2 separate regions of the Homo sapiens genome follow, and region 2 is linked to region 1. The links come from fine-mapping of genetic effects on gene expression. A gene starts in region 1. The other region holds a variant in brackets. All regions are shown on one strand. Distances are from middle to middle. Region 1 holds the start of CEBPG (CCAAT enhancer binding protein gamma). Region 2 has its middle 20 kb from the start of CEBPA-DT.

What was found. PIP is the estimated chance that this variant, and not a neighbour inherited with it, causes the effect.
Region 2: its variant is the best candidate, but not a certain one, in a credible set for the expression of CEBPG in sun-exposed skin (GTEx, PIP 0.59).

The regions. Positions count from the first base shown.
Region 1 is chr19:33,370,473-33,375,849 of GRCh38, forward strand. It overlaps CEBPG (CCAAT enhancer binding protein gamma), which reads left to right and starts at 3,237. Exons shown (of 2, transcript NM_001806.4): 1 at 3,237-3,423. RefSeq lists a silencer at 3,024-3,833.
Region 2 is chr19:33,320,261-33,325,637 of GRCh38, forward strand. No RefSeq gene overlaps it. Among named protein-coding and RNA genes, the nearest start is that of CEBPA-DT, 20 kb to the left of the region's middle. The variant A/G (reference allele first, on the strand shown) is at 3,228.

The DNA of each region.
Region 1 (5,377 bases):
TTCAGGCTTCCCCGGACCCATCAGACTAGGTCTGGTTCGCTTCTGATTTCTCACAGCGTCTTGTACTGCTTTCTTGTAGTATCTATGAAAATGGTAATTGAAAAATTGTGGACCAGGGGAGGTAGCTCATGCCTGTAATCCTAGCACTTTAAAAGGCCGAGGTGGGTGCATCACTTGACCTCAGCTGTTCGAAACCAGCCTGGGCAACATGGTGAAACCCTATTGCTACAAAAAATACAAAAATTAGCCAAGCATGGTGGCGCATGCCTTGTAGTCCCAGTTGCTTGGGAGGCTGAGGTGGGAGGATCACCTGAGCCCAGGAGGTCCAGGCTGCAGTGAGCCATGCTTGCCCCACTGCACTCCAGCATAGGTGACAGAAAGAAAAATTGTGTAATTACCAAACGCCTGTCTGCCTGGCTGTAAGTGTAAGTTCCATGTGGGCAGTGACTGTGTGTTTGTCTTGCTCATTGCTGAATCTCCAACACTTAGCCTACGGCTTAGTACATAGTTGGCACCAAATGCATACTTGTAAACTGAGTAGAAGAAAAACTACCAGCTACCAGCTGAAAAGAAAATAAATACCCGAGTGTCCTGGGCACTGACTAGACTTGCTGGGTGTGTAAGAAGGCCTGCCCAGACACAGATACAAAGAATGCTGGAACAGCTTGGCAGGGCGGTTTGCAAACCAAAGGATAACTGAATATACCTATGCAAGTTCTTTTTTTTCCCCTTACACATTTTTCTTTTTTCTTTTCTTTCCTTTTTTATTTTTATTTTTTTATTTTTGAGATGGAGTCTTGCTGTCACCCAGGCTGGAGTGCAGTGGCGTGATCTCAGCTCACTGCCAACATTTGCCTCCCGAGTTCAAGCAATTCTTCTGCCTCAGGCTCCCGAGTGGCTGGGATTACAGGCACCCGCCACCACGCCTGGCTAATTTTTATATTTTTAGTAGAGACAGGGTTCCACCATGTTGGCCAGGGTGGTCTCAAACTCCTGACCTCAGGTGATCCGCCTGCCTCGGCCTCCCAAAGTGCTGGGATTACAGGCGTGAGCCACTGTGTCTGGCCCCCTTACACATTTTTTAAGTGATTAGGAAATATTCAGGGTAAAATTATGATTTTGTGAGCAATAAATCACAATCCTATTTTAATAGTACTAAAATCTTGATCAAAGCAAGTTCAGGCAGGACTTGGTTACTCACACCCTTAATCCCAGCAATCTGGGAGGCCGAGACAGAAAGATCACTTGAGCCCAGGAGTTTGAGACCAGAGTGGACAATATGGTGAGACCTTGTCTCTACAAAACATTTTTAAAAAATTAGCTAGGTGTGGTGGTGCATGCCTGTAATCCCACCTACTTGGGAGGCTGAGGTGGGAGGATGGCTTGAGCCCAGGAAGTCGAGGCTGCAGTGAGCTGTGATCAAGCTGTGGCAGTGCCATTGCACTCCAGCTGGGGCAACACAGCAAGATCGTCTCAAAAAAAAAGAAGAAAAGAAATTTAAGCTGAGAATACTGAGAGCCAACGTGAAGAAACACACTTGTTTCAATGACACTTATTCTCCTAAGTGTGCATCTGTGAGCATTATTACCTGTTTTTTTTTTTTTGGAGACAGGGATCTCATTCTGTGGCTCAGGCTGGAGTGCAGTGGCTCAATCTCAGCTCACTGCAACCTCCGCCTCTCAGGCTCAAGCCATCCTCCCATCTCAGACTCCAGAGTAGCTGGGACCACAGGCACAGCGCCACCACACCCGGCTAATCTTCTGTATTTTTGGTAGAGATGGGGTTTTTCCATGTTGCCCAGGCTGGTCTCTAATTCCCGACCTGAAGTGATCAGCCTGCCTCGGCCTCGCAGAGTGCTGGGATTACAGACCTGAGCCACCGCGCCCAGCCCATTGTTCACCGTTGTGACCCCTTTTAATTTTTATTTATTGCTTTATCATCTTACTGATTCCTCGAAACAATCTTACGGGGCGAGCCGGTTCCATGGGCGCTGAAGAAACATTTCCTCTTTCAAAGCCTCAATTGTTTGAACGATACGCGTTGCTAAAGAGGAAGCAATTAAACCTATCAGGCGAGTTCTGCCCTCCGCCCAGCGAGCTGCTGCTTCCTGGTGTTAAAACGCTTTCGGGGCCAGGCGCGGTGGCTCACGCCTGTAATCCCAGCACTTTGGGAGGCCGAGGCGGGCGGATCACGAGGTCAGAAGATCGAGACCATCCCGGCTAAAACGGTGAAACCCCGTCTCTACTAAAAAAATACAAAAAATTAGCCGGGCGTAGTGGCGGGCGCCTGTAGTCCCAGCTACTTGGGAGGCTGAGGCAGGAGAATGGCGTGAACCCGGGAGGCGGAGCTTGCAGTGAGCCGAGATTGCGCCACTGCACTCCAGCCTGGGCGACAGAGCGAGACTCCGTCTCAAAAAAAAAAAAAAAAAAAACGCTTTCGGGTTCTCCTGGCGAGTTTTAAGTCACACTGGATCGCTGCTTATTTTCAGAGATCACCTCGCACCCATGCACCTGGAAGGCACCCAAAGAGAATCATTTTAAGAAATTCACTTCATCTCACCCTAACAACAAAGCACAGCCTGCAGCACATGGATTTCACCCATGTGACATCAATGCTAATCCTATGTGTGAAACATCTGGGTTCATTCGATTTTTTAAAAATTAGTAACTGAGATGGGGTCTCGCTATGTTGTCCAGGCTGGTTCTCCAACGCCTGGGCTCAAGCCATTCTCCCGCCTCGGCCTCCCTCGGCGCTGAGATTATAGGCGGGAGCCACCGCGTCAGCCTCCACTCTTTTTGCGGCGACAAAGCCCGCCCGCCTGCGGGGCGTTCCGTTCGCAGAAACTCTGTGAGGGACGCCGCGGGGGCTTCCAAGGGACGCGGCGAAACCAAAACAGTCGCCGGTGGTTCACAAAACCACCTCAGAAAATGCTTCCAAAGGCACGTCTGGCCTCCACAAGGTGACGGCTTTTCAGCCTCCGACTCGAACTTGAGTCGTCCACAGCACTAGGCCGCCGCCAGCCCGGGCGAGCTGCCTAGGGACCGCGGACGCCGCAGCAAGCAGCTCCCTGCTCCCGCCACACCCGCCGAGCCAGCCGCGCGGAACCCACTCCCCCACCGTGGGCCCGCCTCCCGCCGCCAGCCTGCCCACGATTGGTCGACTGGGCTGCCCGTCGCGAGAGAAGGCGGTGCCTCCGGCAGGCCGGCGCTCCCATTGGCCGGGATGGCGGCGGCGGCGCGCGCGGCCCCGGCGAGCAGGGGAAGCCGGTGGCCGCGGCTGCGGAACGGGCGGAGGCTGCCGGTTTCGTAACCGTCGCTCCTCCTCGCTGACTCGCGGGCTGTGAGGCCTGGGTCGGCTCGGGCCGCACCGCGCGGGGCCGCTCGGAGTGGAGGCCGCCTGGGGGCAGGCGGGCTAGAGGAGCAGGTAAGGAGGCTGCGGCGGGCGCCCTGAGAACGGGGAGGAGGAGGCCGCGGCGACGCCGGCCGCTCGACTGGGTGCGGGCCCGGCTCGGGGAAACCCAGCCCCGGCCCCAGACGGCCCGCTGGCCCGGGAAGGCCACGCGAGGCTGGAGGCGCGGGCGGCGGCGCCGCGCGGCGTCTGATGCAACCTGCCGGCAACACCCGGCGGGGACGCTGAGCTCATTCCTGGCCGCGGCCCAGCGCTGCGGCGCCGCCCGTCGACCCCCGCGCTGCCCGGGGCGCCCCTCGCGGCGGGCCGGGAGCGCGCGAACGGCCGGGGAATGCCCCCTGCGGAGCCCGGCCCCCTCTCGGTGAAACGGGCGCTGTGACCCGCCAGGCTCGCATTGGCCCCTGGGGATGAAGGGTGTTCCCAGAATAGCAGAAGGTGGACCGAGTCGAGCTTTAGAATCCTGATCTTCTAGAAGGGCTCAGCTTGCGGTGATCGAAAATCTGTTCAGAAGTTCAAAGACTGATCAATAAAATAGGGAAAGCAACTGGTTTTTAAATGCATGACTTTGCAGAGATAATATTTTGCTTCTTTGTGGAGCTGTTGGAATGTCCTGCACTTTACTGTTGAACGTAGTTTAGAAGAACACGCAACACCTACGGGTCGAATAGAGAAGAAATGAAGCACTTCGCAGGCATAGTTGGAGGGAGCGGAGCAGGGCCGACAGCCAGCGGAGGTGACCAGATGCGAAGGATGGAAATGCATGTGTCGCGGGGGGAGGAGAGTGTTTTCCAGGGCAGCTGGTGTGTTGCTTCTCTTCCGCAGGTTTACGTGTTGGGTTTTCCTCTTGTTTGAAGTTTATACTGTAATCTGGCATCCTGAAATGTATAAGATTTAGAAAGGTCTCAATGTTGATGGGTGACACCAAAATTGGTAGTTGTGTCAGAATTGACTGCTTATATGAATAGGTTGTCACTTAAGGCAGACTTCTCCCAAAGAAATGTGACTCCCAGAGAAAATTTTAAAAGAAAATCCTATAAGGGCTTGCTTTACGAAGACATTCTACACCTAGAAGCTCTTGATATTTAAGATGTGGTCATCTGTTAGCCCTTGAGTAGTATTTGGGATAAGCTGTTCATAAGGTCGATTCTGCTTCTGGAAAAAGTTGCTGTAAACAAGGCTAAATAATTACAGGGTACAAGGGAGCTGAAGCATATTTCAGCTTCTTGATTCCTGCTTTTGGTGGGCACACTTGGCTGGTTCAGTTATTTTTAATACCTGCTTTTAAAAAAAGTAGATGGAAACAAAACTTCATTGAGAATATCCTTTAAATTCTCAAGATCACATCATGTCTGTCTGCAAGGCTGTCTGATCTTGGAGAGATGGTTTCATCCCTGGGAAATTAAACACTATGTGCTGAGCCCCTGGTAAAGACAAATAGGACCTCGTGGGGCTGAATTTGGTCTCGTGGTCTAAGATTGCCTCACTTGGTCACAGTAATGGTAAATACAGGTAGCCACGATTCCAGCTGTATTGTGCGTTCTTGGGAGGGTTGGTTCCATGGGTTGTTATATTGATAGGTACACTGGCCTCCTGCGTTTGTGGCTTTCTAGCTCTATCAGTAAAAAAAAGACAAAAATGAGCATGACCTCCTAATGGATGTTCATTTACAAATAGTCTATTTGTTTTGTGTGTTGTAAATCACTTCAAAAGGATTGGGTTAGAAAGATGATGTTGATGTTCTTCTAATGCTCCAGTGACCCACTTCTGTACTCCCAGAAAGGGGACGTCCCCTTCCTCATGGACCCTGCGCTAGATGCTTGTGAAGATCTGCAGGGAGACACGATGCGGCTGGAGTTGACAGACCTAGGGAACAAATTTTCCCAGATGCCCAAAGAAAAGAGAAAGCACAGACCATTTAGGATACAGATAGTGGTTTAGTACTGTCAAGATGTGGTGTGAGGGAGGAGAG
Region 2 (5,377 bases), 50 kb before region 1:
GACAGAAAAAAAGGGTGTGACTGGAGGTTGAGGGTGGAAGACTTTTTTTTAAATTTCAATTTTATACTTCATATGGTTTAAATTTTAACACCAAATGTGTATTCTGCCATCATCATCATCATCATCAAAAGAGTGAAAATAATATTTGAGCCAAGTCTTAAAAGATGACTAAGAATTTTTCAGAAAGGTGGTAAGGGAGGGCATTCCAGGCAAAGGTCATATGTGTGCCAGCACAGGGAGGCATGAAATTGCCTGATGTGTTCTGGTCCTGCAGTTTTTTGGCAAGTCTGAAATATAGGATTGGGTTGGTATTACTGAGGAGGAATGGGAGATGAGCAACAGACAAGTAGAAGCCAGATGTGGAAGGGGCTTATCAGTGTGCTCATTTGAACTTTATCTTGACAGTCATGGATAGTCACTAATGTGTTTTTCAAAGGGAGGATACAGGATTTTCTCTGGGCTTTAGAGAGACAATTCTGACTGCAGCTTAGAGAATGGTTTAGAGGAGACCAGAGTGAAGGCAGAGTAACTTCTGGGAGATGCTGTAGTAATGCAGATTAGAAATGCTGGGGGCCTAAACCAGGAAAGTAGAGCAGAGATGGAGAAAAAACAAGTGTGGTTTTGAAAGGTATGTAGGGACCAGGCACAGTGGCTCATGCCTGTAACTCCAGCACTTTGGGAGGCCAAGCCAAGTGGATCACCTGAGGTCAGGAGTTTGAGACCAGCCCAGCCAACATGGTGAAACTCCGCCTCTACTAAAAATACAAAAATTAGCCAGACATGGTGGTGCATGCCTGTAATCCCAGCCACTCAGGAGGCTGAGGCAGGAGAATCATCACTTGAACCTCAAGAGGCAGAGGTTGCAGTCAGCCGAGATCATGCCTTTGCACTCCAGCCTGGGTGACAAGAGTGAAACTCCATCTCAAAAAAAAAAAAAAAAAAAGGAAAGAAAGAAAAATAAAGGTACATAGTAAGCAAAATAATGAGAATTTTGCAATTCTGGATCTAAGTGATGAGAGACATTGACATCTATTAACTCCTGCAAGTTTAGTCTCATGAAACCACTTAGTGACACGATACTTTATTCCCATTTCCATAAAACAATATTGACATAATGATATCTACCATTTAAAAAGTTTATTTTATTCAATGCAATCCCTATAAGAATCTCAACTGGTTTCTTTATGTAATAGAAATGGACACACTGCTGATCCTAAAATTCATGTGAAAATCAAGGGACTTAAAATAGCCAACATAATCTTGAATAGAAGAAAAATGTTTGGAGGACTTAAACTTCCTGATTCCAAAACTTACTACAAAGCAAAGGTATTCAAGACAGTGTGGTACTGGCATGAGGTTAGACATATAGATCAATGGAAAAGAATTGAGAGTCCAGAAATAAATCCATATATTAATGGTAAATTGATTTTTCAACAAGGGTGCCAAAAGCATTCAGTGGCAGAAAAAAATAGTCTCTTCAATATATGGTGCTGGGACAACTGGATATCTATATGTGAAAGAATGAAGCTGGACCCCTACCTCACACCATATACAAAAATTAATTCAAAATGGATCAAAGACCTAAATGTAAGAGCAAAAACTATGAGATTCTTAGAAGAAAACAAATAAGTAATTCTTTATGACCTTGGTTAGGCAAAATGGTTTCTCAGATATGACACCCAAAGCATAAGCAACAAAATAAATATAGATAAATTGGACTTCATCAAAATTAAAAATTTGTATGCTTCAAATGACACTAATAAGAAAGTTGGCTAGGCTTGGTGGCCCATGCTGTAGTCCCAGCACTTTGGGGGGGCTGAGGTGGAAGGACTGCTTGAGGCTGAGAGTTTGAGACCAGCCTGGACAACATAGCAAGACCCTGTCTCTCAAAAAAAAAAAAATTAGCCAGGTGTGTGGTGCATACCTATAGTCCCAACTACCCTGGAGCTAATGTGGGAGAATCACTTGAGCCTAGGAGTTTGAAGCTGCAGGGAGCCATGATTGTGCCACTGCACTCCAGCATGGGTGACAGAGGGAGATGCTGTCTCAAAAACAAAAAACAAAACAAAACAAACAAGAAAGTGAAACGACTAAACAATGGCAGAAAATACGTGCAAATTGTACCTCTAATAAGGGACTTATATCTAGAATACATAAAGAACTCTTACAACCCAAGAATAAAATTATCCCAATTAAAAAGTGGACAAAGGCCGGGCGCGGTGGCTCACGCTTGTAATCCCAGCACTTTGGGAGGCCGAGGCGGGTGGATCACGAGGTCAGGAGATCGAGACCACGGTGAAACCCCGTCTCTACTAAAAATAAAAAAAAATTAGCCGGGCGTGGTGGCAGGCGCCTGTAGTCCCAGCTACTCGGAGAGGCTGAGGCAGGAGAATGGCGTGAACCCGGGAGGCGGAGCTTGCAGTGAGCCGAGGCTGCGCCACTGTACTCCAGCCTGGGGTGACACAGCGAGACTCCGTCTCAAAAAAAAAAAAAAAAAAAAAAAAAAGTGGACAAAGGATTTGAATAAACATTTCTCCAAAAAAGTTCTACACCTGGCCAATAAGCACATGAAAGGGCGCTCAACATCATTATTCCTCAAGGAAATGCAAGTAAAAACACAATGGGCTACTCACTTCACAGCCACTAGGAAGCCTGTAATAAAAAAGACGGCTAGTAAGTGTTAGCGTGGGGAGACTGATACCCTCATACCCTGCTGGTGGGGATGTAAAATGGTGTGGCCACTTAGGAAAGCACTCTGGCAATTTCTCAAAAAGAGCTGCCATTTGACCCAGCAATTCCATGCCTAGGTATATAGGCAAGAGAAATGAAAATATGTTGTATTAGTCTGTTTTCATGCTGCTGATAAAGACATACCTGAGACTGGGTAATTTATAAAGAAAAGAAGAGGTTTAATGGACTCACAGTTCTACGTGGCTGGGGAGGCTTCATAATCATGACAGAAGGCAAAAGGCATGTCTTACATGCTGGCAGGGAAGAGAGGGCTCTTGCAGGGAAACTCTCCTCTATAAAACCATCAGATCGCGTGAGACTTACTCATTATCACGAGAACAGCACGGGAAAGACCTGCATCCATGATTCAGTTATCTCCTGAGTCCCTCCCACAACACGTGGGAATCATGGGACCTACAATTCAAGATGTGATTTGGGTGGGGACACAGTCAAACCATATCATATGTCCACACACAATCTCATACATGAATACTTAT[A/G]GTAGTATTATTAATAACAGGTAAAAGGTGGAACCAATCTAAATGCTCACCCACTGCTGAAAGGATAAACAAAATGTGGTATATCCACATGATGGAATATTACTTAGCTGTGAAAAGGAATAACATGCTGATATGTGCTACCACACAGATGGACCTTGAACATATTATGCAAAGTGGCAGAGACAGTTACAAAAGATGACACAGTCTATGAGTCCATTTATATGAAGTGTCCTGAACATGCAAATCTATGGAGACATAGAGGAGATTAATGGCTGCCTAGGGCTGTGAGGAGGGGGTGATTGGGGGTGGCACATGATAGCTAAAGGGGACACAGCTGGTTTGGAGAGTGAAGAAAATGTTCTAAAATTGTACTGATAGTTGCACAACTCTGTGAATATACAAAAAAATCATTAAATTGTACACTTAAAATGGGTGAATTGTATGGTGTGGGAATTATATCTCAGTAAAGAAGTTACCAATAACATTACAAAACAAGAAAAAGAGTTTATTTTATTTTATTGAGAGGTGGGGCTTCACCCTGTCACTCAGGCTGGAGTGCAATGGCACCTTCTTAGTTCACTGCAACCTCGAACTCCTAAGCTGCCTCAAACTCCTGGCCTCAAGCGAGCCTCCCACCTCAGCTTCCTGAGAAGCTGGGACTACAGGCATGTACCACCATGCCCAGCTATTAAAAAAATTTTTTTTTTGTAGATGGAGTCTTGCTTTGTTGCCCGCGCTGGTCTCAAACTCCTGGCCACAAGCAATTCTCCTGCCTTGGCCTCCCAAAGTGCTAAGATCACAGGTGGGAGCCAGTGGGCCCAGCCCTTTTAATTTTTAATTTTTAAGTTGTACAGATGATATATGTGTATTTTATTTTTAAGAAAATCAAAGTATAGCAAGGCGTAGAGGAAAACATTTTAAATTACCCCCTTATCCCAAATTTTGAATCCTACCGCAGTTCTAAGAGGAAGCCACTGTCATCAGTTTAATGCAAATCTTTCTTCACCTTTTTTTGTGATGTATAGGTATGAACGTAAATAAGAAGATGTAGATACATCATTTAGTTTTCTGACTTTAAAAATAAAAGGGTTCGTGTGGTATGTATTGCTCTGCTGCTTGCTTTTTCACTTAACATTGTGTTTTGGAGATCCCTCTGTGTTATTACATAGAGATCTTCCTTTGCTTTAAAAAATACTGCATGGTATAATATTATATAGCAAAGATGTGTGTAGGCTTAATACTTAGTAGTGAAATTGTTGGGTCAAAGGGTGTGGGGTTTAAAATTTAACAGAGGCCGGGAGCAGTGGCTCACACCTGTAATCCCAGCACTTTGAGAGGCCAAGGTGGAAGGATCACTTAAAGCCAGGAGTTGGAAACCAGCCTGGGCAACATAGTAAGACCCTACGTCTAAAAACTTGGCTGGGTGTGGTGGCACACACCTGTGGTCCCAGCTGCTTTGGAGGCTGAGGTGGGAGGATTGCTTGAGCCCGAGAGTTCAAAGCTGCAGTGAGCTATGATCACACCACTGCACTCCTGGAGGGGTGACAGAGCAAGACCCTGTCTCTTAAAAAAAAAAAAAAAAGAAAAGAAAAATAAAATGTAACAGATACTACACATTGTTTTTTAGAAAGGCTACACAGTTTCACACACTCACCAGCAGTAAATACATACATCTTTCAATAACATTTTGTAATATCAAATAATGGATATTAATACTTTTAAATTTTGTTTGTTTGATAGCTCATTGTTGCTTTAACTTCTATTTTCCTGATTACTTATAAGGTTAATGAATATGAAATTCCCTAATGTTTTCACTCTGAGTTATTTTTCTTAGGCTGTCTGGTGTATTTTTTACATCTTTTTATTTCAAGGGCTTTATTTTTAGTTTGTTTTACCCATAGCTCTTGTAAACAGCAAGTAGCTGATTTTCTTGGTTGAAGTTCTTATAAATTTACCTGATCTGGCAGCTGAAAAAAAGGGAACTTGCAAAATTTAACAGTTTGTTAATGACAAATCACTAAAATTGTTTAAAAGTTGTCTATTTGGCCATGTATTGTCTTAGTTTAGCATATTATCATGTGCTGTAGAATTAAAGTTTATTTATATAGTACATTTTACGTTTTTGTTTGTTTGTTTGTTTTGAGACAGTC